Regions from separate parts of the Homo sapiens genome. Here all the other regions are linked to region 1. The links come from fine-mapping of genetic effects on gene expression. A gene starts in region 1. Each other region holds a variant in brackets. All regions are shown on one strand. Distances are from middle to middle.

Region 1 (8,189 bases):
AGTGAGAAACATTAAATTAACTACAAAACTTTATTCTAATTATGCAAAACCCTAAGCTGTAAATATGTCAGTTTTTAATAGAAAAAGGCTTCCTTCTCATTTTTTCACTAGTCTGACCTCCCTTCCCACCCCCTAGACCACCCAAAAACCATCTATGAAAATCTTACCCCATGAAATGCCTTGACTGTCCTTTTGTGGATGTAATTTTGTCTTCATCTAAATTCCCAGAGCATTTTGCTTGTACTAATCAAACATACAGCCTCTTGCAATATAGTTATTTCTGAATATATCTTATCTCACTCCAAAGTGCCTTATACTTAGCTGGCAATCAAAGATAGGTGTGAATGAATGGTTGGATGAGATGGATGAAAAAAAGCAAACTCTACACAAGCAGCACTTTGCAGAAGGCCTGCATTTCTTTCCTGGTGGGTAATGAAATGGAAAAAAATGTCCCACCCATGATAAATCTGACTTCCTTGGAACCCTCTTCAGAGATATCATCTCGGTCATTCTGTCAGGTTTCTCGGGTTTTAAAGGAAGAAATGAAAAACACCTTGTCCTTGATGCTCAAAAATCTCTCCATTCTATTTTACAATGCCAGGGTTTTAGCTTGTGTGGTAGTGGTGAAGCCATGGGGTTTCTGTTAAATGTTTTCTCTATTTGTGTCATTTTAATACCACACACAACCGATATGTACACTACAATAAGAGCAGAAGCCAGAAACCGGGAGGTTAGAGGGAAAGACAGTGTTACCATGGAGAGGAGAGCTATTGCTTCTTTCTGAAAATAAGTATGTTGCCTCTACAGTTACATGCCATGTGTAAGATATTAATAATATTTTTATCAGGGTTCTAGCTGATGTTACCTTACTTCACATTAAAAGAAAAACTGCAAAAGTTCTTGTGCCTACCCTCTAATTTTGCTGTGTGGAAGTTGCCTAAAATATTTATGAACTATACTAAAGAACTGAAATCCCAGAAGCCTAGTATATATCTTCACTATTGTGGCTCTAGAAAAATAATAAAAATTTCCTATCATAGCATTTTATAACATTTTAAGACTTCTAACATCAAAATGAGGGGTAAAAAAACAAAAACAAAAAACTCCTCTTTCTCTTCAAAGAAAAGAGCATAAACTATAAACTAAAACCTTTGGCACCACTTTCATTATTTAGTAGTAATAGAAGCTTTCTGGTCCTTTCATTTTTTTCCAGAATCAATAACAATGTGTTAAATATTTGACATTCAAGTACAATTTTAAGAATACATTATATTAACCTCACTAGTAAAATAAAGTTATCCATACTTCAGTTTCTTTGTGCTGAACAGTCCCGTGATTTGGTTCCCAAAATATAGTAGAGGTAGTGGAAACGTCTAGAAAATTTAAAAAGGGATAACAAAACTCAATAATAAAGATAGCTAAAACAAGGTCCTTTCAAACAGAAACAATTTTGTTTATATGATCAAAATTTTTTCCACTTAAAACGTAAAATTAGTTATCATACACAATTTTGACACCCAAACACCCAAACAAAACTTATGCTTGGATAAACAACATTACTATAGCAGAAAGAAAGGGAGGAAGGCAGGGAGAAAAGACAGAAATATGAATATGATCAATGTGAGACAGAAACATCATTTGCTGTAAAATATGATAATGTATTAGAGCCCATGGCTCTATTGTCAGCAGAAAAAGTAAAGGCATTTCATCTTCGTTTGGAGTCAAGCAGAGGCAGACAGTATAAAATAAGCCCAAAGAATAATGAATGCAGGATACACTGGCTAGATTAGATGGATAGAGAAACTGCAAAACTATTGTACTCTCAACAAGTGTGCATTAATTAAAAACAGAAGAATATTCCTAGGTTATTTTTTCTCTTAAGTTTAAAGAGACTGTAGGCCTTCTTTGACACATATTACTACTTTTATTCTTTACATTCATTATAACCACTCTAGACTGGGCAATTTTGAGGCTGCAATTTTTAAATACGCAAGGCACTGATAAAATATGTTAATACATACTGACTTCATTTCACAAAATAAAGTATCGCTTTTCTTCTTTTACCTTTCGAGGTACATTTCTGTCAAGGTCAGGAAACTTGACTACTCTGAGCGCCTTTCCCACCCAGAGAACTGCCACTGTGGCCACCATCTGTAAACAAGAGAACACAGATTCACTGTTCTACACATAAAGACACACACAGAAGTTCTAACAACATAAACCACGTAATGGTGAGGATTCCAACTAACCTGGCCAAGTCCAACACATAGTGAGGAGGGAAATCTACAAAAAGGGCAAAGAAAAAAACAAGATCAGAACAAACCTAACTTAGCTCCGTGAATTCAATTTGCACATCGGCAACGTTAATAAGGCATTCCGATACAAGCCACATCAACGTCCGCCCCTAAATCAAACAAAAATCTTGGGAGAAAACTCTCTGCCTGTTGGTTGTCAGTCCACCCCGCTGATGTAGCCTCGGGCGGCCGCTTGTCCCATCTTGTCCGAGTCTACAGTTTCAGTCCGCTGCCTGCAAAGGATTTCTCAAGGCAGTGCAGATACAGATCTCTGCAACGATTTCACACACCTTAAAAAAAAAAACAACCAACTTCTGCCTCTGGGTCCCAGTGTTAGCAAGGGAATAATTGTCTGCTGGGTTGAGGATGCGTACGTCCCCAGAGGCTGTCAGCGGGTGCAGGGGACACTGAAGCCCCGGCCCCCTGTCCAGGCTGCGGAGGAGGGAGGCTTCCCTCGCTCTCCTCCCTGATCGACAGGCATAACGGCTCAAAAGTCACCAAGCAAATCACTTTGCTCCATCTCTCTGAAGGGCAGGGTTTTCGGGGCGGTGCGCCCAGGGCATGGCAGGCGAGCCCCAAATGTGCCGGGCCGGCCGGAGCTCCGCGCAGGGAGCGGACCCCTGCCACAGGCCCGCTCGCCAGGCCGGCTCCGCTGCCCGGGCCGCGCGCGTCAGCCGCCCGCCCTCCCCAGCTCCCGCCCAACTTTGTTCGGCTTTAACTTTGGCAGTCAAAGTCCAGGGAGCCGGCGCCGCGCCGCCGCCGCCGCCCGCTCCTCCTCCGCGGCCTGGGCCGCCGCCGCCTCGGCCCTACCTGTAATTGGTGAGCACGCTCTTATTCACCACCACGATCAGGAAGGAGCTCACGCCGTAAAAGCCGGCGGCCAGCAGCTTCAGAAACACGGTCAGCGTTTCGGCCGACGCCATCCCCAGCTCCTCCTCATCTCGGAGTGTGGAGGATTTCGCGGGGGCTTCTCCTTTAACCCGAGCATGCTGACGTCTATGAACTTCCGCCATGGCTGCCGCAGCAGCGGTGGCCTGGCGGCGGGGCCTAGCGGCTCGGGGGCCTGCAGCGGCAGCTCCCAGGGGACTCCAGGAGTTGGGGACCGCAGACTAGGCCAGCTGCGCGCTCGCCGCCTCGACTCCCCGCTTGGCCGCCGCCTGTCCCCGCCCAGGGGCAGGGACGCCGGGGTTCACACCCCTGGAGACTTTGCTCGGGCATTGTGCAACGCGGGGTCAGAGAGTAGGGCCGCGCCGGGCTTAGCCTGGGCAGGGGTTGGAGAGAGCCTGGAGAAGGGGCAGTGGCGACCCCCCTGCCCGAGGCGGATAAGGAGAAGCCAGGGGAACTACATCGAGACACCAGAGCGCCGGGCGACAAACCACAGACTCCGGGTGACAGTCGCCCTGCGCCTGCGCACGAGCACGCGCTGGGTCTCTCCGCGGGGCGCGTACCTGGGGCGTGGGGAGTCTGGTGGCAGAGGGGCTGGAAGGCCGTATTCTCCGGATAACTGCCGCAACTAAGTGCAGACCCTCCTCCCCTCTGTTACAGGTGGCCGGCCAAGTAGTTACAGTACACTGCGTCTAGACTAATTCTGAATGCTCTTTTAGTCTCTCTTGCAGGGGGTAAAAACCCTTCAAAAGTATCAGATGTGGATCAACAGTAAACACTCAACGAAAATTTCATTCCGCAATGCCTCAGGCTTCTTACATTTTCTGAACCCAGAAAACACCAAACAATACTTTTCAGATTGAGAAGTTTCGTTTGTTTGTTTTAAGAAAAATGTTGACATATCCCAAAAAGTAGCAAGATAAGCAGCTTGGGGATTGGGGAAAGCACAAGGTGTTTGGAGCCTAAAAGACTTGATTTCCAATTGTAGGATTCCTAGAAATGACGACCCCCCCCCCCCCCACCAACACACTCACTCCTTATTGTGTGTCTTGGACCAATTAGATGACCTCCCTGAACCTGATCTCTGTGGATGTGTAGCTAGCAAAGAGCTAGTTTTCGGTAAATGGTAGTCATTATTGTATAACAGAAGCAAATCATTATGATCGGTTTAAGCAAAGAAATTACGTATTGAACTTTAATAGATTAGGAAAGAAGAACTTTGAATTATTTTTCTAAGTGCTTGGTCTGTATCTTTTTAAATTTCTTTTTTTTTTTTTTCTTATTTTTATATTTTGGTAAACCAGGTATAGTGGTTCACACCTGTAATACCAGCACTTTGGGAGCAGGTGGAATGCCTGAGCCCGGGAGTTTGAGACCATGCTGGGCAACAAAGTGAGACCCTCTCTCTACAAGAAAATAAAAAAATTAGCCAGATGTGGTGGCGCACGCCTGTGGTCCCAGCTACTCAGGAGGCTGAGGTGGGAGGATGGCTTGAGCCCAGGAGGTCAAGGCTGCAATGAGCTATGATCATACTACTGCACTCCAGCCTGGGCAACAGCACAAGACCATCTTAAAGAAAGAAATAAATTGTGGCAAAATATACAAAGTATAAAATTTATCATTTTAACCCTTTTTGAGTATGCAATTGCATGGCATTAACTGCATTCACATCGTTTTGCAGCCATCATCACTAATCCATCTTTAGAACTTTTTCACCATCCCAAAGTGAAACTCTTTCCCCTTTAAACAATCACTCCCTGTTTCCCTACTTCCTTCCCTCTCTGCTGTTAACCAGTGTTCTACTTTCTGTCTCTGTGAATTTGACTACTCTAGGTACCTCATATAAGTGGAATCATGTAGTATTTGTCCTTTCGTGATGAACTTACTTCATTAACGTAATGTCTTCAAGGTTCAGCCACGTTGTAGCATATGTTAGAATGTCCTCCCTTTTTAAGGCTGAATAATATTAAATTATATGTGTATAATTGGTTTATATCTTTTGAGTTACTTTGAGAACACCTATGTTCTTCAAGTGTTTCTTAAAAAACTGGTACACAGGATGAGGTTCTTAACATAGCCTACAAGGTCCTAGATAATGTGGTTCCTACCCACATCTCCAGAGGCACTATTCACGTTTCCCTCCCCTAAGGTGCAGATAAATCAACAATGTGGGTTCCGGCTTCTGTGTCTTTACTCCCATTATTCCCTCCATCTGGGCTGCTTTTTCTCTTCCTCCTCTCACCCAGCTCCTGAAAAACTCTTACATTTCCTTCCGTATTTTGGCAGAACATTACCTCTTCTCTGGGCAGCCTTCACACTGCCCCCCACTTCCCTCTACATAATTGATCTCTCTCCTTTGTGCCTCTCCTACCGCATCTTTATATACCCCCTTTATAGAGTGTCCATCTGCTGCTGCTGCTATAACAAAATACCTGAGACTGGATAACATATAAAAAATAGAAATTTATTTTCTCACACTTCTGGAGGCTGAGAAGTCCAAGATCAAGGTGCCACCTTAACCACTGCATCCTCTGAAGGGGAAGAACACCATGTCCTCACATGGCAGAAGGGACAGAAGGTCAGAAAGGGACAAACACTGTGTGAAACCTCTCTCATAAGGCATGAATCCTACTCACAAAGGCAGAGCCCTCATGACTTAGTCACCTCCTAAAGGGCCTGCCTCTTAATAATATCACATTGGTGATTAAGTTTCAACATATGAATTTTGGAGGACACATACAGACCGTAGCAAAGGGGCTCTGCATTACATGTTTACATATCACTCTCTTCCACTAGACAGTTGCTTCTTGAGGACAGTGGCAGGCAAGGGTGCCTAACACAGTTTAGATATTTTAGTTGATTGAATCAATGGAAACAAGGAAAATGATTAAATTTCTTCCTTGACTGCTAGCTTCAAAAGGAAAAATAACTAAAACATTGTATTTTAAGAAACATCCTTGCAGAAAAAATATTATAGAAGTAACAATGACCCTCATAATAAAAAGCAAATATATACATATATACACATTTTTACACATTTTAAAAAACATACCTGGAATAGAACCAGAGAAGAACACTAATCCTCAAGCCACACACTGCTGCTGACACTTAGTAGTTTTGTGACCTTGGGCAAATTACTAGACATCACTGTGCTTCAATTTCCTCACCTGTAAAATGGGGATAACAATAGTACCCACCTCATAGAGTTACAATGAGAATTAAATGAGTTAATGAATGTAAAGTGCTTAGAACATAATATGAGTGTTTATTACAATTACTGTTATCACTAGTATTATTAGGCAGTCTTCCTCTTTTCACTTACTATTCCTTGATGGTCTTTCTGTGGCAACGCTTAAACTTAACCTCATTCTTTTCAAAGGCTTCAGAGTATTCCATTAGTTGGATGCATCATCATGTAACCCTATAGACATTTAAGTTATTGCCATTTTTCAGTGTACAAACAATGCTTGTCCATTCAACTTTGTGCAAGTATAAATTTCTAGAAGTAGAATTGCTTAGTTAAGGCTACTTTTTAATAAAAAAATTAATAGAATTGAGGAAATTCCAAATTAACAACCTCCAAAGAGTTTATACTCATTTTTTATTCCTGCTAACACGGTATGAAAATGAAACCCTCTTTTATAAAGTCAAGAGGGCAGCAATGGAGAACAATGGAAGAGGTGAGATAATATTTCAAGTTCTACCCTGTGGAAGTATGAAATGCCAGGTACAAATTTTCAAAATCATAAGTTATGATTACAGAAAATAAAAATAAGAGTGCTGATCCAGGCAACTACTGTTTTTCTCAGCATGATTACTTTATTAATTAACAAATATTTAAGACCTATCACAGGCCATGAACTGCATTGGATTTTCTCAGCTCCAGTAATGATTTGGTTGCTGTGGACCCCCAGTAAAATGCTATAGAGTTTAATGGAGTCAAGCATTCTCATTAGGTACCCACAAAGATAAGATAGGTGCCATCTCTAGTAGGATTTTTATCTCTTTCCCATGTTATAGGTACTTAGACTTTGGGGTAAATTTTGGTATTTTAGGTCCTCAGATCTGTTTCCTCACTTCAGTAATATTAATCACAGAATTATATATGGAGTATTTACACATCATTGGGTGAAACTGAATAAATATTGAAATATATCTTAAAAAGTTGTTCAAGATAAGAAAGACTGAATTAAATGTTCTCACTTAGGTACAAGTGTACTCTATTTGGAAAGGTCAACTTTGTGGGTTGATAAATTTTACATCTTACTGGGTAGAATTACTAGCAAAAACTCTTCTTAGTATTAAATGATGTCTTTTTATCAAAACATTGCCGTTAGGTATCCTGTTTTTCATTGAGGGAATATTGATTCTGTACACAGTTTTTTAAAACATAGCTTATATTACTTCTTTTCTCCACGCTTCTCCCTTTTCCTTGGCCCACTTGCTCCTCTCATAGTGGAATGTATATAGGCCTCTTTTGTTATCCACCTGCATTCACCAGTTTCCTATTTCACTGCCAACCTAGATCATACCCAGTGACCTGCTGTGCTGCACAGCTGGTTACTTTATAGTCAAGGAGCAAAGGTCATACATGTTTCCTATTTGAACAATACTTTAAAAATTCTGAGAATCAGCATGGAGCTTCTCTTCTCTGCAGTGCCTTGTACTTTTCTACATTGGACTGCAAAGAATGAACTTATTGTCCACTGATGATGAGCCTCACAATGTGCTTCTCTTGTAATTCATTATCTCATTTCACCCTAACCACTGTGAGAAGCAGGTATGGTGAAACAACATATAAACAGGAAAACAAGGGCTGAGAGGGAGTATTAGACATACACTGCATCCCACAGCTCTAAGTGACTGTGTACAGATTCGGTCCTAGGTCTGTTTAGCATTTATTCTGTGTTCCTCCACTGGACACTCCTGCCTCCTTTGGGGCAGATGGACAAGACCTACTTTTACAAGACGTTCTGGCAATGTCAATGCTTTCTTCAATGACCAAGTTTA
Region 2 (8,189 bases), 36 kb before region 1:
GTACTAGATATTAAAATAAACAATTCCATACGCAAAGTATATTCCAAAAGGAAAATGTGTTTTTAGTAAAAAAGGTTATAAAACACATAAAAATGTGTTTTTGTAAAAAAAAAAAAAAAAAAAAAAGATTTTGCCTAGTATAAACGTTTAAAAAGTTTTTAATTAAAAAAACAAAAATAAAAAATTTTAAAAATGTTTAAATTTAAGAGGCTATTTAAAAACGTATAAAAATCTTGTGGTCAAACTAATTAAAATTAAATAGATTTATTTACAAGGCTTTATTAAAAATTAACTTTAATGTTAATAATACACTAATACAAAAATAAAATCGAATTTTCTCTGTTTTTTTTTGAGTCAGGATCTCACTCTGTTGCCCAGGCTGGAGTGCAGTGGCGTGATCTCAGCTCACTGCAACCTCTCCCTCCTGGGTTCAAGCAATTCTTCTGCCTCAGCCTCCCAAGCAGCTGGAACTACAGGTGCATGCCACCATGCTCAGCCAATTTTTGTATTTTTGGTAGAAACAGGTTTCACTGTGTTGGCCAGGTTGGTCTAAAACTCCTGGCCTCAAATGATCCCCCTGCCTTGGCCTCCCAAAGTGCTGGGATTACAGACGTGAGCCACCAAGCCCAGGCAGTTTTCTCTTTCAAACAAAATTTTTATGTACTATTGATAAAAAATAATTTTTAAAATTTTATTTACCTTCTAAATAAATTACAAAAAAGAGGGGGTAGAGGGAAAAACAGATTCAGTATGACTCATGGTATCTTTATTATGTCTTATAAGTCTCTACCAAGAGTAAAAGGTTTTGCTTTTTAAAATCTTTAAATTATCACGTTGACTAATGATATCTTTTAGTGGCCTGCAATCCTGTTTTAAACCTTTGTTATCTGACATATTTCCCCAAATCAAAATTTCAAATTCAGTTTTTTTGACCTCAAACTAACTTTTTAGATAATAGGGCCCCTAGAAGTCTAAGAGAAACATATTAGCCTTATTTAGTATGTTAAAATCAAATGGAAATCATTAAAAAAATGGTGCTTAACTTTCTCTGCATTATATTTATATAAATGTGTTATTAATATATGTTCTAAACCTGTATGAGATTCCTAAAGATTTGAAATGTCTTCAGATATATTATCAGTAATAATTATGATTATGTTAAATTGGTACATGTCAATGAAATAATCAAATTTCCTTGTCAATTGTTAACTATTCTAAGACTTTTGTTTTCCATTGACAATCATTGTTTTACTTTGATTCTTCTCGAAATGTAGTTTACAATCGGTAGAGTCCAAAATTTGCTTCTTCTTCGGAGAAATTAATAAAAAAAGACCCTGATAAGTAGTTGTAAATATAGGTTTCTGATAACTTTATTGATCCGACCATTAGACTAGGTAAAAACTTTCAGTATTCTAGTTAAAAAACTGATGTATTCATGAGGATTGCTAACCTAACATCCAACAGTATAAGAATTACAAGGAATTACATTAGTAAAAGACTAATTTTTATGACTTCAAAAAAAATGCTGTGTTTTCCAGTCAAAAAACTTTTTTTTCTTCTAAACTATTTATAATTTACAACAATTGGGTAAAATATACTTTGTGAACAAATTTAAAACATCTTTCTAACTAATTTCTCCAAATTTAAAAACTATTTATAAATATTCTTAACTTATCAGAATATAATTATTTAGATAAGTTCAATACACATCTGTTTTCTTTGTAATAGGACACAGAGACACTGGTTATTTTACCAATACTTTGACTAAAATAACATATTTGCAGATATGACCAGACTACTTGAAGAAATTAAAGTTGACTTTATAAAGCCAATAAAAAGACCCTTGTCTACACAGTTCCTTTATAAGTTTCCTGACCTGTGATTAAAAAATGTAACTTTCTGACAGACCAAGGGACCTCGAGTTATTTTATGATATCAAAAGGAGAAAGATTCACCCAATTTGTTACAGGTATTAGAGTCTGGTGGCAAATCCTTGGCTTAGCCTCCTGGCCTTGAGGCTTTTAAAAGTCTAATAATCTAAGATTCCTTATTAAAAAGTTCCAATAAAACTAATCTAAGAAGAGCCTATATGGCCAATCGCTATTCTTATTACACTTTATACAAATAAGCAGGCCAAGTACAATAAGACTAAAATTTATTTTACAAATAAATTAATCCTACTATGATTTATCTTTGGTAAAAATGGGAGACTAGAAGAAAAAAATCATGTTTCAAATAAAACTATAGCACATCTGTTTAAATTAGATTCTAGCCTCATTAATTGTTATTGTTGTTATTACTTCTCTAATATTTAGACTAAAACCTGAATTCTTTCCTGGCTACAAGTTTCCAAACTAACATTTTCAAATTTTTCTTCCATTTTTGACTTTAAGCCACTGAAAGTTGAAACTGTGCTTTTCTTAAAGCCCTACAAACTGAAACTAGACAACGTAAACTTCAGGAAAAATCAGAAGTTAAATACAAACAGCCTTCATGCCTACTGATGTATAGAATACTCAGAAAGTTCACTTCAATGCTGATTTGAACTATAATCCAGTAAAATCTGTCAGATTGCCACTGCAATCTGAAGATACCTCAAGGACTCTAAAAAACTCTATACACTACTCCAGACATTAACCTTGGTTTTTTCTTCTGTTTCCACAAAAACATCTCTTATTAAAGATCTGTTTCCCTTCATCATACACAGAGGCCTAGTGTACCTACAATGCCACCTTCTAAAATGGGACACAAATGTTTAATCCATTCTTAGGACTATGACTAAAAAAGATATGGGGCAATACATTTAAATTTACTCTTTTCTGCTTATCTAGATTTGTTTTTTCACTTCTTTGTCTATCTCTGATGACCTCTGGCCCAAATGGCTTTTAATATATAAAACTTTATGAAGTTTTAAAGTGAGGACTGAAGGAAATTAAAATATTTTACCCCAAAATATATTTATCTGACTTATTTCTCACAGGCCTCTAGATTAGGCCTATGAGACACAAAGTAAATTGATACATTGAAAAAGGCCAAAAAGAAACTTCAAAATTATTTTTCTAATAAAACGCCCTTTGAGAGAACCTTCAAAATTATGTCAGCCTCTTCTAGGCCTAAGGATGAAGACAGGAGGTTGCCTTAGAAAGGATTTTCCTATTATTTGAAGGGAAAAAATAAAATTAAGTATCATGTAACAACAAGGCTAGCAGGCAACTTAGGAAAGTGTATAACAGGACGTCATTTGAATACAGGGATCCAGGGAGGTGGATTAATTTATGTAAGTTGCCCAAGGAACTTCAGAAATGAAGGTGACAGAGAATCCAACCCATGCTGCTCAAAATCAGAAGTTGGAAAACCTGTAGGTATATATTAGGGTATCCTAAGCAAGGCTGGCTATCAAGAAAAGACACCAACGTCTTCAAAAAAGAAATTATCAAGAAGCACAGAAGAGTCATGATAGCTCAAAACTAAGACTGCAATTCTCAAACTTTAGTATACCCGACAATTGCCTGGAAACCCTGTTAAACATAAACATTTCTAAGCTTTACTCTAGAGATTCTGACTGAGTCTATCTGGGTAGGCCTTGGAATTTCTACTTTCAATGAGTTATCCTAAGTGATTTTCCCACCATGCTGAAGAGAAAAAGGAATGCTGACCGAAGGATTTGCAGGGGATTCTCAAGCACAGAAGGAAGCTTAAAGCCTCTTGTAGGAGGAATGGCTGAGCTAAATGGGTTATAACTGGGATGCTAATGACAGAAGCTGCACTGTATCCTGTGAGACTTCGACCCTGCAAGGGTATCAGCAGATTCCCATCTGTCTGCATGTGCAAGCCATCCTTCAACAGTGATACCCTGCACCAGTATGAAGCAAGAACAGTAGTGAACTAATCAGACAATTCAGTTTTTGCCTCCCTGTGGAGTTTGTAAGTAAAATTAATCACCCTGGAATGAGTAAATCCATGGAGTTCTTGGACTACTGTGAGGAGAAACATATATCAAAAGGAAAGTATAAACCTTATATAAGCAAGAATGACTTTATTTGTATCCCATGTTGATAATGATAAAGTACACTAAGAAATCCCAGGCAAATAGGTTTACTTATTAAAATTAAACATAGGCTTTCCGGCATCATCCGTCTCCTTAACTAAAAACATGGCCTATTTCTCACATTCTCGCTACTCTTATGCTGAAGACGAAAGCCATCCACTTTGCCCTTGAGGCATTCACTTTACAAAACCAAAACATACCTAGAGCTAATTTGGGGGAGGGGCCTAAAACTGTCTCAGCCAGCCCAATCCCTGGCATATAGATTGTCTCTAGCTTTCTAAAGGAATTCACACAAATTGACCTGTTACAGCTTAATTTGGAATTCTATTCACAGCAAACAGTTCAATTTCATGATTTGAAACCACAGACTTTCTGGATTTTAACCCAATCTAGTCTCTAAACTGAGATCAGGTGGGCACCACTCTATTGAGACTACAAAGATAAACAGCAGAGCAGTAAAAACTTGACCTCTGAAATCTCTTCCCTCACTACTGAGTAATGGGGCATCAGAAAGGAAGTCACAAGGGTAATGGCCCTCTTTTCCCCAAACGTTAAGGACCTACCTCTCTGGGTTTTGCCTTTTTAAGGAAGCAGGCCCACTTGGCTAATTCATTTGGAATTCAGACAAGCTGTGGCCTCTTGAATCATAAAGCACTAGAATCACA[A/C]AGTCAGATGAAAGAGGCCTCAGGCTTCAAGCCACCAACTTTAGCTCAATATTCAAGTCAACTTGGCTCTCCTGGCTGAAGACAAATTAGTCTGCCTCAAATAAAATGGATCAGGAGGAAATGAGATCATTGGAAATGTCAGACACAGCTTTCAAAAGTGAGCCATTTAAGGTTTGGCTCAGGCATAGGAAAACCCCCCCAATTAGCTTCTGGCCAGCATACTTTCCCTACAAAACAGCCAGACCTCAGTGAGGCAGAGAACACAGCAGTTCTCATTAGGGGTTAAAGGGACAGGCTTATCACTACCAAGCTATTAATCTGCCCTGTCAGAAATAGACCTAATTCTATTCCTTCCTCTATTCAGATAATACATTTTCCTTTTCCCATGCTCTTCAGAGCTAAGCTGCCTCCAAGTAGAGACTATGCCCTCCCTGCATTCTTAAAGAATATTTCAGAAACTATCACCACAATTTGTCAAACTAAGACAGTATGTGAGGAAATAACGATTTGGGTCTTAAGGCCATCAACAGACTCTTATCTTAAAGGAACAATTTTCAAATAATGCAGGTACCAAAAGCTAACAGTATTTTTCTACTTACCTTAATACAGCCAACTATTGTAGTTGTAAGAGCAGAATTATACTGCGTGCAGAGTACTGTGGCGTACATTAAGATAAACCTAGAATGAAGAAAGAGGTATAAAATCCAGTTTCTCACTTTATACTAATCTCTAGCCAAGATAAACAATCAGTGTTGGCCAAGCCAGCACATTCTAGTCACTGACCAGCTATGAATTTTCCCCACCTCACTGCTTCTTATACTGCAGCTTCAGAATTTTTAAAATTTCACTAAATAGAAACACATTCATCTCCTTACCAAGAGTTTTTCTTTGCTGCCCTCATCAAAACCCTGAACCATCTCTTACAATCATGACTATTTTTATAGATCATGCTTCCTACTAATACACCTAAGCCAGCCAGACAGAAAGCTCAGAGCTCACAGACCCTAAAATGCAGTTGTGCACCTTCCATAAGGACAACATGTCCTCTGGGCCAGACGAAGACAAGAGAGATCCTTAAATATTGAAGAAAACCAAATTAAAACTACTTTAAGAGGGGATACAGGTTCACTTAACAACTAAGTGGCAGCAGTTGGAACTCTCTGATTTACACTGAGGCTTCTCAGCTTAAGTACCAAGGCATCAGGTCAACTTTATTTTGAAGCACCTGCTCACTGTGTGCCAGATCCAGTCACAAATAGCAACTAAACTGACTGGCTGAGGAAAAAAAACACATTAGAGAAATATGGACATGAGGATAAGAGGCACGTTTGCAGGTATCCTCTTAACCTCTACATATTCTCTCCTATGAGGAAGAAAACATGGTAAAGAGGGGTCAAACTGCCCCAAATTCAAATGCTGCCACTGCCACCTACAAAGTGCGCAAATTTAGACAATTTACTAAAGTTCTATCTGTCAAATGGTCAGTATAGAGATAAAACTATATAATGCATGTTGAAATATAATGGTGCTTACTAAACAGCAGGTTATCAGGTAAATTTTTTCTTTTCTTCATCCTTCTAAGGTATCAATTCAGTAGCCCTAAGAGCACATTCCCAAGAGCTATGAAACCACCTGAATCTGGAGGCTTAATTATCCTAGGCTGACACACTCAGGAGACCTAAAGATATTGAGAAAAGAGGCATGCAAATTTCTCTAACCTATTTCTTTAGGAAAACTATCTGCTAACAAGGTAACAAAGGCTTACCCCATCACACAGGAGAGGGTGAACTGCAGAAGAAAGAGGGTGTCAGCCCAGCCTTCAAACTCCACAGCCTGCAACACACAAGAAAGCATTAAATTTTAGACCAGGCCTTCAAAATCAGCTATCCCGTTTTAATGTAAATCCTTCTACGAGTCTGCCTCCAACACAGACACAGACACAGACACAGACACAGACACACACACACACACACACACACACACACACACAGGTATATGTTTCCCTGAATTACTCCAAGGATAGAGAGTGATGTTCAAAGATTTCATGTATACAGAGTTGAACTAGTAAGTAGTTTCATAAGATTTTCTCCCATCCAAAATGTAACGTGGGGATTTTATACTTCTCACTATTGGTGCAAAGAAACTGGTATTTCCTTGAAGGCACAAGCCACATTTGGCTAATCTCAGTTCTTTCAGATGGCTATTAATGTGCTAGTACTAAAGGCTTTCTCAAACATTAAAACATGTTTCCTTTCTGTAACATGTGAAAGCTTAAATACAGCCTTAGTTATACAAATTCAGCTGAGGTCTATTCAAGGAGAATTACTGTTTTAAAACGGTTCATTCTAAAAACAAGGTATTTTGTGTTGTTGTTGTTGTCTGTGTTAAGCCAAAAGGAAAGGAATAAAGAGAAATGAAAGGGTACACTGATCATCTCATCTCTTGTCCAAGAGGAATGGATTCTCAAGTACCTAGTTGTTTTTGCAATAGGAGTTTGATAAGCAAATGTGACAAACATTCCACCTTTTTATCTCTGCTAACCTGTCCAGCTTCAACTTTTGCTACTTCCGCATAAATCTGATGGCACCAGGGCTCCAACAATACCAGGCTCCCTGTGGCTTATAAAACATACCATACACTTTCTTACTTGCATGCCTTTGCCTGGAATGTCCTTCCCCTCAACATTCGTCTGACTCCTGTTCAGCCATCAAATTAAAACTCAAGGCTCCCTTGTGGGGCCCTTCCTGATCAAGTACTCCTTCCTTTGTGCCTCAGTACTCCTCTCTAGAGCTCTTGTCTCTTCGAACTGTAAATCTTTCTATACCATGTCTACAGAATGAACTCCCTGAAGGGAGGACCCACATCACATTTATCTAATCATATTCCTAACAGTGCTTGACAGACAGTTTGTTTATAGTTCTTTGTTGAGGTAGAATACATGAAAAATAAATTAATTTTAAGTGTTCAATTCAATGAGTAGTCACAAATGTATAATCATGTAACCACCATTACAATCACGATAAAGAAATCAACTCCTTCCAAAGTTCCCTCCTCCCCATTGAGTCAATCTCCCCTCCATTTCTAGCCCCTGGCAACCTCTGATCTACTTTCTGTTACTATAACTTCGCTGTTCAACAATTTCCTACAAGTGGAATTGTATAGCATGTACTCTAGTGTCTTCCTTCTCTTTCACTTGGCATTATGCTCCTAGGACTCATCCATCCTATGTATGTATCAGTAATTCATTCATTTTTATTGCCAATTAGTATTCTATCTTATGGGTATACCACAATTTGTTTATCCAAACACCAGGTAATTGACACTTATTTGGGTTATTTCCACAAGTTATTATGAACCTTTGAACCTTCCGTTACAAGTCTCCCAACTGACATGTTTTTATTTATCTTGGGTAAATAGCTAGAAAATGGGATTGCTGGTTCATTTGGTTAGGTGTATCTTTAACTTCGTAAGAAACT
Region 3 (8,189 bases), 69 kb after region 1:
TTGGATAGTTAGCTGACGTTAGTTCTAAGCAAAGTGTTGAGGAGTGATTTGGTTCCTACTGATGTTTATAGTAAAATGCAAGAGGAAAGAAATGAATTGAAGATGAAATTATTAAGGAAAAAGGAACCAGAAGTTAAAGATTTGAAAAATTTTCAGCCTGCTCATATTACAAAAGAATGAAAAAGTATGCTTGGGAGAGAACACTAAAGGTATAGTAAGTTGACTGTTTGATAGGTAGGTCAGTGTGGATGTGTAACAAGGACCAAATCAGCCATCTCAACAGAAGCCAGGAATAGAGATGGGATTATACCAGCAGAAACACTGCCAGCTGGGACTAAGGGAAACAGAGAAAGTGGGAAAAAATGAAAGAAAACTGTTGAACTTCTTAGATTCTACAGGACCAGATCATAGAGCTACTGTATGCAGCTGTTCAGCTATAACTGTGCACTATTTTTCAAGACAAGGGAAGAAGGACCTCAAAAGCAATTCAAAGATAATCAGGGATGCCACTCCCACAACAGGCCCAGAGGGCATGTGCTCAGGGGACAGGGCTGCCTCCACTTCTATTTCAAAGGGTAAGACCCCTGCCCAGTGGAGCCATGGGTGTGCAACTCCCGCTAGGCAGAGCTTCAGAGGTGAGACCCCTGCCTGAGTGGGTTCTGGAGGCAGGACCACTAGTCTAGTGAATCTAGAGGGCAGAGCTTTGAACCAAAGAGGATTATTCTCAAACCTTAGGATCTCATAGAGTTTGCTTGCATGGTTTTAGAATTATTCAGGACCTGTCATTTCTCCCTTCTTTTTTATCTCTCCCTTTTGGAATGAGAATGTCTATCCTACACCTATCCCATCAACGTAGCTTGGAAACAAACAACTTGTTTGCCTTCACAGGTTCACAACTGGAGAGAAATTTTGTCTCAGGGTACTCTTACCTCAAGTTTCATCCATATCTGATTTAGATGATATTTAGTTGAGAGTTTGGACTTTAGAGTTGATGCTGAACCAGTTAAGAATTTTGGATCTATTGGGATGGGATGAATGTATTTTCCATGTAAGAAAGATGTAAATTTGGGGGGGACAGGGGTGGAATTCTACAGACTGAATATTTGCATCCCCCCCTTCAAATTCATATATTGAAGTCTAAATGCCCAAAGTTATGGTTTTGGGAGGTGCAGCCTTTAAGAGGTAATTAGGTCATGAGGGTGTAGCCTCATGATTGGGATTAGTGCCCTTATAAGACATGAGAGAGGTGCTATCTGTCTCTTTCTCTCTGCCATGTGAAGATACAAGAAGAAGACAGCTGTCTGCAAAGCAGGAAGAGTGTCCTCACCAGACACTGATCTTGGACTTCCTAGCCTTTAGAACTATGACAAATAAATTTATTTAAACCACCCAGGGTATGGTATTCTTTATAGCAGCTTGAACTGACTAATATAGGGGGTCAAATGGATACTGAGGTAGTAACTGTGTTTGGGTCAATTTGCTGATACTCTACCCAGATTGCTGACTGAAAGCCTGGGGATCCTTCGCAGAAGAAATTGTGGAGTATATTGGAGAGTATAGGAGTTGATGGAGAATTTGAAGAGTTGTAGCTGCTCTCCTTGGTTGGAGAATGTGTTCCTCTGAGGATCTCTCATATGTGCTCTTTATGACTAAAGTTGGCCAGAAAATGATTGATGACTAAGGGAAAAGTTGGAAACAGTGTCCAGAAAGAAATAAGAACTTTTGTCTTCTTCTCTCTCCCTCCTCCTTTACTCCCATACAGGAGGATGTGCTGGTAAAATTTTAATAACCTTGCCTTTGGGTGTAGTTTTAATGTGGAATTTTACTCATTCATCGATGGTGTAAGCTACTTTTTTGCTGAACCAAATAATAGTTTTTGAATATTTCCTTATTTTTCATGCTATTCAAAGCATAATGGCTATAGGTAAGGCATACTTTTTTTGGTAAGACTTACTTTTAAGTTTAATCTTCATCATTAACATTTTCTTCCTCACTTTCTTAAATCTAGACAGACAACGACTCAAGCCTTGATTTGTAGTGTTTGCCAATTGCTGTGGTGTAAATACTCCCGTTGTCAATTTCTACCAATGTGATATAATTAAATGTGAAATTTGGAAGAGATGTGTAGTAGCATACTGTTATACAAATTTCTACCATATGAATATAGTAGATGTAAATAACTTCAAAACCATGAATAATAGTAAAATATACAATAATTAGGAAGTGATGAGTTTTGAGTATTATCTTTATTTTTGGTATGCCATTGAATTTTAAGTTTACATAATTTAATTTTTAATGGTGAGTGTTTAATAAACATCTCACAAAATTGCTGAAAATTCAACAAGCAGCTCTAATGAATTGGTAGGAGCTGGCTTTAGCACACCACTGTACCCATATAAGAGAAAAAAGAAATTAGAAGAAGAGTGAGGAGGAGTTGTGCTAGAAGAAGGCCATATCAACCTCCTACTCTCAGTTGAGGGAACAGGAGTAATCAAATTGCTGACCATACCCCTCTCCATTTCAGCTCCCTGTGTCATTAGACTGGCTTGTATAGGGACGGGAAAGCCATGACGAGGGGTGAGATCAAAATACTAAGTTGGACAGACTTTTAATAACCAAAGTGATCAGGATGAAATTAGAGAAATATAAAACTGCTTTATTACTATTACTATTTTTGAGATGGAGTTTCACTCTTGGTGCCCAGGCTGGAGTGCAATGGTGCAATCTCAGCTCACTGCAACCTCCACCTCCAGGGTTTAAGCTATTCTCCTGCCTCAGCCTCCCGAGTAGCAGGGATTACAGGAGCCCGCCACCATGCCTGGCTAACTTTTGTATTTTTAGTAGAGATGGGGTTTCACCATGTTGGCCAGGCTGGTCTTGAACTCCTGACCTCAGGTGATCAGGCCATCTCGGCCTTCCAAAGTGCTGGGATTACAGGTGTGAGCCACCATGGCTGGGCTGCTTTATGTTTTTATGTCCCTGAATCAAGAATAAGCAATGAAATAGTTAAAACTAACATTTTATTTTATATTTCTTTAAAAATCTATATTTGCTTTCTATTCTTGTGGTCAGACTTAAGGATCAAATCTACCTTTGCAGAAAAGAACTGAGAACTGTTCCACCTTTGTCTGTGTTCCAAAACTATTTAAATAGTTCTTTGAAACTACAAAGAAACTCACCTTTGACACAGCTTCAAAGTGGTACTTTTGTAAAAGAATTCTTTGACTGCTTCCTCAAATTTTTCTACAGTTATTGATCTATTTATGTTTTCTTTTTTGTTGAGATTTTTCCCTTTCATATTTTCCCAAAAGTTCATCCATTATTACACCCATGTGTCAAAGCAATGTAGTTACACAAAGCATTCATTATAATTATTTTAATGTCTTCCATATCCATGGCTATAGTTTCTTCTTGATTACCAATATTGTGCCTTATGTTGCCATTGTTTTCTCTTCAATTTTGCAAACTGTGGTCATTTTAACATTCTTTTGGGAGGTGTTAAACATACTAAGTTTCCCAAGTACTCTTAAAAGTTCAGTGTGCTAGGCTGGATGCAGTGGCTCACTCCTGTAATTCCAGCACTTTGTCAGGCCTCGGGTGGATCACCCGAGGTCAGGAGTTCGAGACCAGCCTGGCCAACATGGTGAAACCTCATCTCTACTAAAAATACAAAACATTAGCCGGGTGTGGTGGCACATGCCTGTAGTCCCAGCTACTCGGGAGGCTGAGGCAGAAGAATCGCTTGAACCCGGGAGAGGGAGGTTGCAGTGAGCCGAGATCATACCACTGCACTCCAGCCTGGGCGACAACAGAGCAAGACTCTATCTCAAAAAAAAAAAATAAATAAAAATAAAAGTTCAGTGCGCTTATGAGAGGAAAGCCAAAGTTTGGTGAACATACTGGGAGATTGACAGCTTTTCTTTTTTTTAGTCCTCCAACAAATGCATACTTAACATGGTTTATAAGCAATGTATTGAATTAAAAACTAAGTATTATACATTTGATTTATAAGATTAGTTATACACAAATCCTGTCCTCAACTGATCTTGACTTTCTTTTCTAGTTTATTTGTCTCTTGTCATATTTTTTGAAGTTTCCATTTTATTATA[T/C]AAAATTTTTTTATTTGGCTGAGGTATAACTAAATTATAAATTCTGCTATCTAGAAGCAGATAGAATTGTAGGATAGATAAAATGGATATAAAGTTTCCTTCTAGGCTGACAGGGACCTGGATAAGGGTGTTCTATAACTCACTGAAGACTGAGATACAATTACTTTTACCACAGTTTCTAAGGAGGATCCAAGTATCAGTTATTCTACTCCTAAGCTTCCCTAGAAGTAGGTGTTAAAAACCACTAAGAGTCTGAGATTTGACCCTACTTACGAGCTAACAAGTTTGCCTGCCACGGTTTCATCAATGGTGGCAGCTTTCTTCCAGATATCTCTACCTGAATGTTTAGATGCCTATGGGCATCTAAAACTTAACATCTATGAAATAAATCCCAGCCCTTCTCACTTTGATCCTCTTATCCACCCCAATCTCCTTTTCTTCACTTGGTCTCTGCCTAAGTACAAAGCACTACAATGCACCTAGTTACCAAGACCCAAAGCTTGCAGGCATCCTATTGAATGGGGTACAGTAGTGATGAAGAACACAGGCTCTGAAATCAGACTTCTAAGGTTCAAATCCAGCCTTTCAATTTGTTAGCTGTATGACCTTGTGCAAATTGTTTAACCTCACCCAGACTTAGGTTTTTCATCTGTAAAACTGCACTAAAACATTGGGCTACAAAAGTTTGTTTCACTCTGAGCAATAGTACAAAACTGCTACATGAAGAAAGCTGCTTCGAGACAATCAGGTGGTAGGCCTTAATCAGAATACTTACATGAAAATGTAAGTAAGTAGGAGTGGTCTTAGATGCAAATGTCATAGTTTGTTTGTTTGTTTGTTTTTTGAGATGGAGTCTTGCTCTGTTGCCCAGGCTGGAGTGCAGTGGCATGATCTCAGCTCACAGCAACCTCTGCCTCCCGAGTTCAAGCAATTCTCATGCCTCAGCCTCCCAAGTAGCTGGGACTACAGGCATGCACCACCAAGCCCAGATAATTTTTTAAAAATATATTTTAGTAGAGACAGGGTTTCACCATGTTGCTCAGGCTGGTCTCAAACTCCTGACCTCAGGCAATTCGCCCACCTCAGCCTCCCAATGTGTTAGGATTACAGGCGTGAGCCACCATGCCCGGCCCACAAATGTCATAGTGCTCACGTGGGCTGCCTAGTGCATAGTGTCATAGCTGCTGCCTGTCTAAACTATGTGTGAAAATCAAGGTCACATAGCTAACAAGTAGCAAGGCTGGATTTAAACCTTAGCAGTCTGATTTCAGAGCCTGTGCTCTCTTCATCATTACTATACCCTATTCAATAGGATGACTGTGAGCTTTTGGGCTTGGCAACTGGGTGCACAGTAGTGCTTTGTACTTAGGCACAGAACAAGTGAGGAAAACTTGTTACCCAGAATAAATGAGATAAGGACAGTATCCACACTACTACCAATGTCCAATTAATTTGAAGTTCTACTGATTCCACATCTTTGTACTTCTTTTTTCTGAACTCTCCTTTACAATTCTGATGTGCTTGGAAAAATTTTATAGCATTATGCAAGTACTAAATGCCAGTGAAAGACCAAGTATGACATATTTAGGCTGTCCCTTTTAAGTGCACAGAGAAATTGCCTTACTTAGTTTTCTAGGCAGACTTTTTCTTAAGTATATCAGTTAAAGTTTGCAATAAATCCTGACATTAATTTGGGGCAATATAATTGAGCTCAAGAAAAGCCTTCCTTTAAAAATTCACAATTGTAATTACCATCTACACTAGTAAAATATTATACATAATAAATATTTTATAAACTAGAAATATTCAGAAAGCTAATCTAGTATATTTTAACTCATAACCCTTATAACATATGCCATAAAACTTTCATTTAATATACATTGCATAATCTAAGACAGATATAAAGTAATGTTTTAAAACTCTGAACTGGACGAGGTGAGGTGGCTCATGCCTGTAATCCCAGTACTTTGGGAAGCCTAGGTGGGTGGATCTCTTGAGGCCAGAAGTTCAAGACCAGCCTGGGCAGCATGGGAAAACCCCATCTCTATAAAAAATACAAAAAATTAGCTGGGCATGGTGGTGCATGCCTGTAGTCCCAGCTACTCTGGAGGCCAAGGTGGGAGAATCACCTAAACCTGGGAAGTTGAGGCTGCAGTGAGCCATGTTTGCACCACTGCACTCTACCCTAGGCAATGAGTGAGTCCTTGTTTCACAAACAAACAAACAAATTCTGAACTGAAAATTTAAGGTGGTTATGATAGTTACATTTTTGATTTTGTAATGCTGCATGACTTGTCTTCTTTGATCTTTGATATTGCCTTAGACGCGGATGTAGCAAGAGCTTCTTCAAATTCCAACTGAAAATCAAATGTCAGGGGTATAGCCATAGTTGTTTTTCTTCCTTCACTCTGAAGCCTGTTTATCTGCAGCAATGCCAAAGTGAAAAAAAAAAAAAAAAAAAGAGTACTTTTTATATGGGGAAAATCTTAGGTGGAAAGAAAAAAAATCTCACTTTACACACACACACACACAGAATTTAGGTGGCAGGCAATAATGGAAAAATAGTACAGACTGAAAATTGGGGGTCTAGTGCACCAACTGTTTTTATGCCTTTGCTGTGTGACCTGAGTTGTTCTTTTCCCATCTGTAAAATGTGGGGGTAGGACTTGAGGATTATTAAGGCTCCCTCCTAATTCTAAAGTACAGAATTTAAGGAAAGATCTACATATTTAGATACATAGAGTTCTTGGAACCATAGTAGGCATGTCCCTCCAGCCTGCTCCTCTTCCTGTAGCCACACGCACGATGAATCACACCAATCTTCCTCTAGTCGTGAGAGCCAGAAATAGAGTGAAGAAAGTAATCAAAAGAGGACTTTGTTAAAATCCTTATACAAATGGATTGAAGAAGAAAAAGGATCTAGCTAAAAGGTGAGTAAAGGAGCCGAAAGTTTTCTCTAAAAAATTATCTCAGAGCATAGCTCAAAAGAATAAAGAGATGAAAACCCTGAAAGCAAAATCAAAGGATATGGGGGACTTCTGCTTCTGCCAATAGATGGAGCACTATGGGAATTAGTCTCCTGCTCTCAACAACTAGGAGCTCAGGCAAAATATATGAAAACAACTGCCCCCAGCTATTAGAAAACAGAGTAGGACAGATCGCTGAAAGAAGGGAAATAACTGAGGTCTACCCTCTAATAGCCCAGCTTACTTCCTGGAGGTGGTTTCAGGGCTGAGGTGCAGGGAGGAGAAACCCATTGGATTGGGGGAACTCAAACCAAATCTTGCGGCTTTGATCTCGCTAAAGTTAAGAGAAAGATCGCACCAGCAATCACACTCTCACGCATTTACCTCAGAGAAATGGAAACTCATGTTCATACAAACCTGGATGCAAATGTCCATAGCAGCTTTATTTTATTTTTTAAGCAGCTTTATTTTTACTAGTAAAATCGTCAAAACAATCCAAAAGCCCTTCATGGGATGATTCGTTGAAACTTTGTACATCAGCAATAAAATTTTTATATTTGTATACATTACATTTTCAACTAGTATAATTAGTTGCTTTTTACAAATTAGTTTATATCATATTAATGTATCATTAGCTAAAAAGTAAAATTATTCACATTTGAAATGTTAACCTGTTAATGATTAAACTGAATTGTAGCTTATACGTCACAAACCTTTGTTCTTCTGGCCAAGATTATCTCTGCTTGCTTATCAAGGACATCCAACTTCTCTAGGATTTTTTCTGCCATTGTCAATCACTAAATTCCTATTTTAAAATAAGGAGGAAGAAGAACAAATCAATTCAAATTTAAACATAAAACTAGGCATAAGTTTTCAAAAGACTCACTTTTACATTACTGTTTTAGGTAAATAATAGAATTGTTTAAATCATACAGTAAATCATAGAATTGTAAATGTACCCAAGTTTTTTCAATTGAAGGCTATATGATCAGAACTCCCAGATATGTATAGGCCCCATGAATTTTTAAATTTATGATAAAGGTGAGGGGGAGAAAGTTCACGATTACCATGAGAACCATATGTGACTTATACTTGAAGCAAGACCATGTGGCTT

Evidence for each region. PIP is the estimated chance that this variant, and not a neighbour inherited with it, causes the effect.
Region 2: its variant is fine-mapped to the expression of SLC35D1 in whole blood (INTERVAL, PIP 0.99).
Region 3: its variant is fine-mapped to the expression of SLC35D1 in whole blood (TOPMed, PIP above 0.99).

The regions. Positions count from the first base shown.
Region 1 is chr1:67,050,707-67,058,895 of GRCh38, forward strand. It overlaps SLC35D1 (solute carrier family 35 member D1), which reads right to left and starts at 3,442. Exons shown (of 12, transcript NM_015139.3): 1 at 3,105-3,442; 2 at 2,250-2,283; 3 at 2,065-2,151; 4 at 1,306-1,373. The coding sequence starts at 3,307. RefSeq lists silencers at 2,857-3,066, 3,357-3,546.
Region 2 is chr1:67,015,057-67,023,245 of GRCh38, forward strand. It overlaps SLC35D1 (solute carrier family 35 member D1), which reads right to left. Exons shown (of 12, transcript NM_015139.3): 9 at 6,479-6,546; 10 at 5,313-5,391. Among named protein-coding and RNA genes, the nearest start is that of SLC35D1, 35 kb to the right of the region's middle. RefSeq lists an enhancer at 5,488-6,286. The variant A/C (reference allele first, on the strand shown) is at 4,714.
Region 3 is chr1:67,119,378-67,127,566 of GRCh38, forward strand. C1orf141 (chromosome 1 open reading frame 141) reads right to left here. Exons shown (of 8, transcript NM_001276351.2): 3 at 7,789-7,880; 4 at 6,375-6,532. The coding sequence starts at 7,863. Among named protein-coding and RNA genes, the nearest start is that of C1orf141, 11 kb to the right of the region's middle. The variant T/C (reference allele first, on the strand shown) is at 4,110.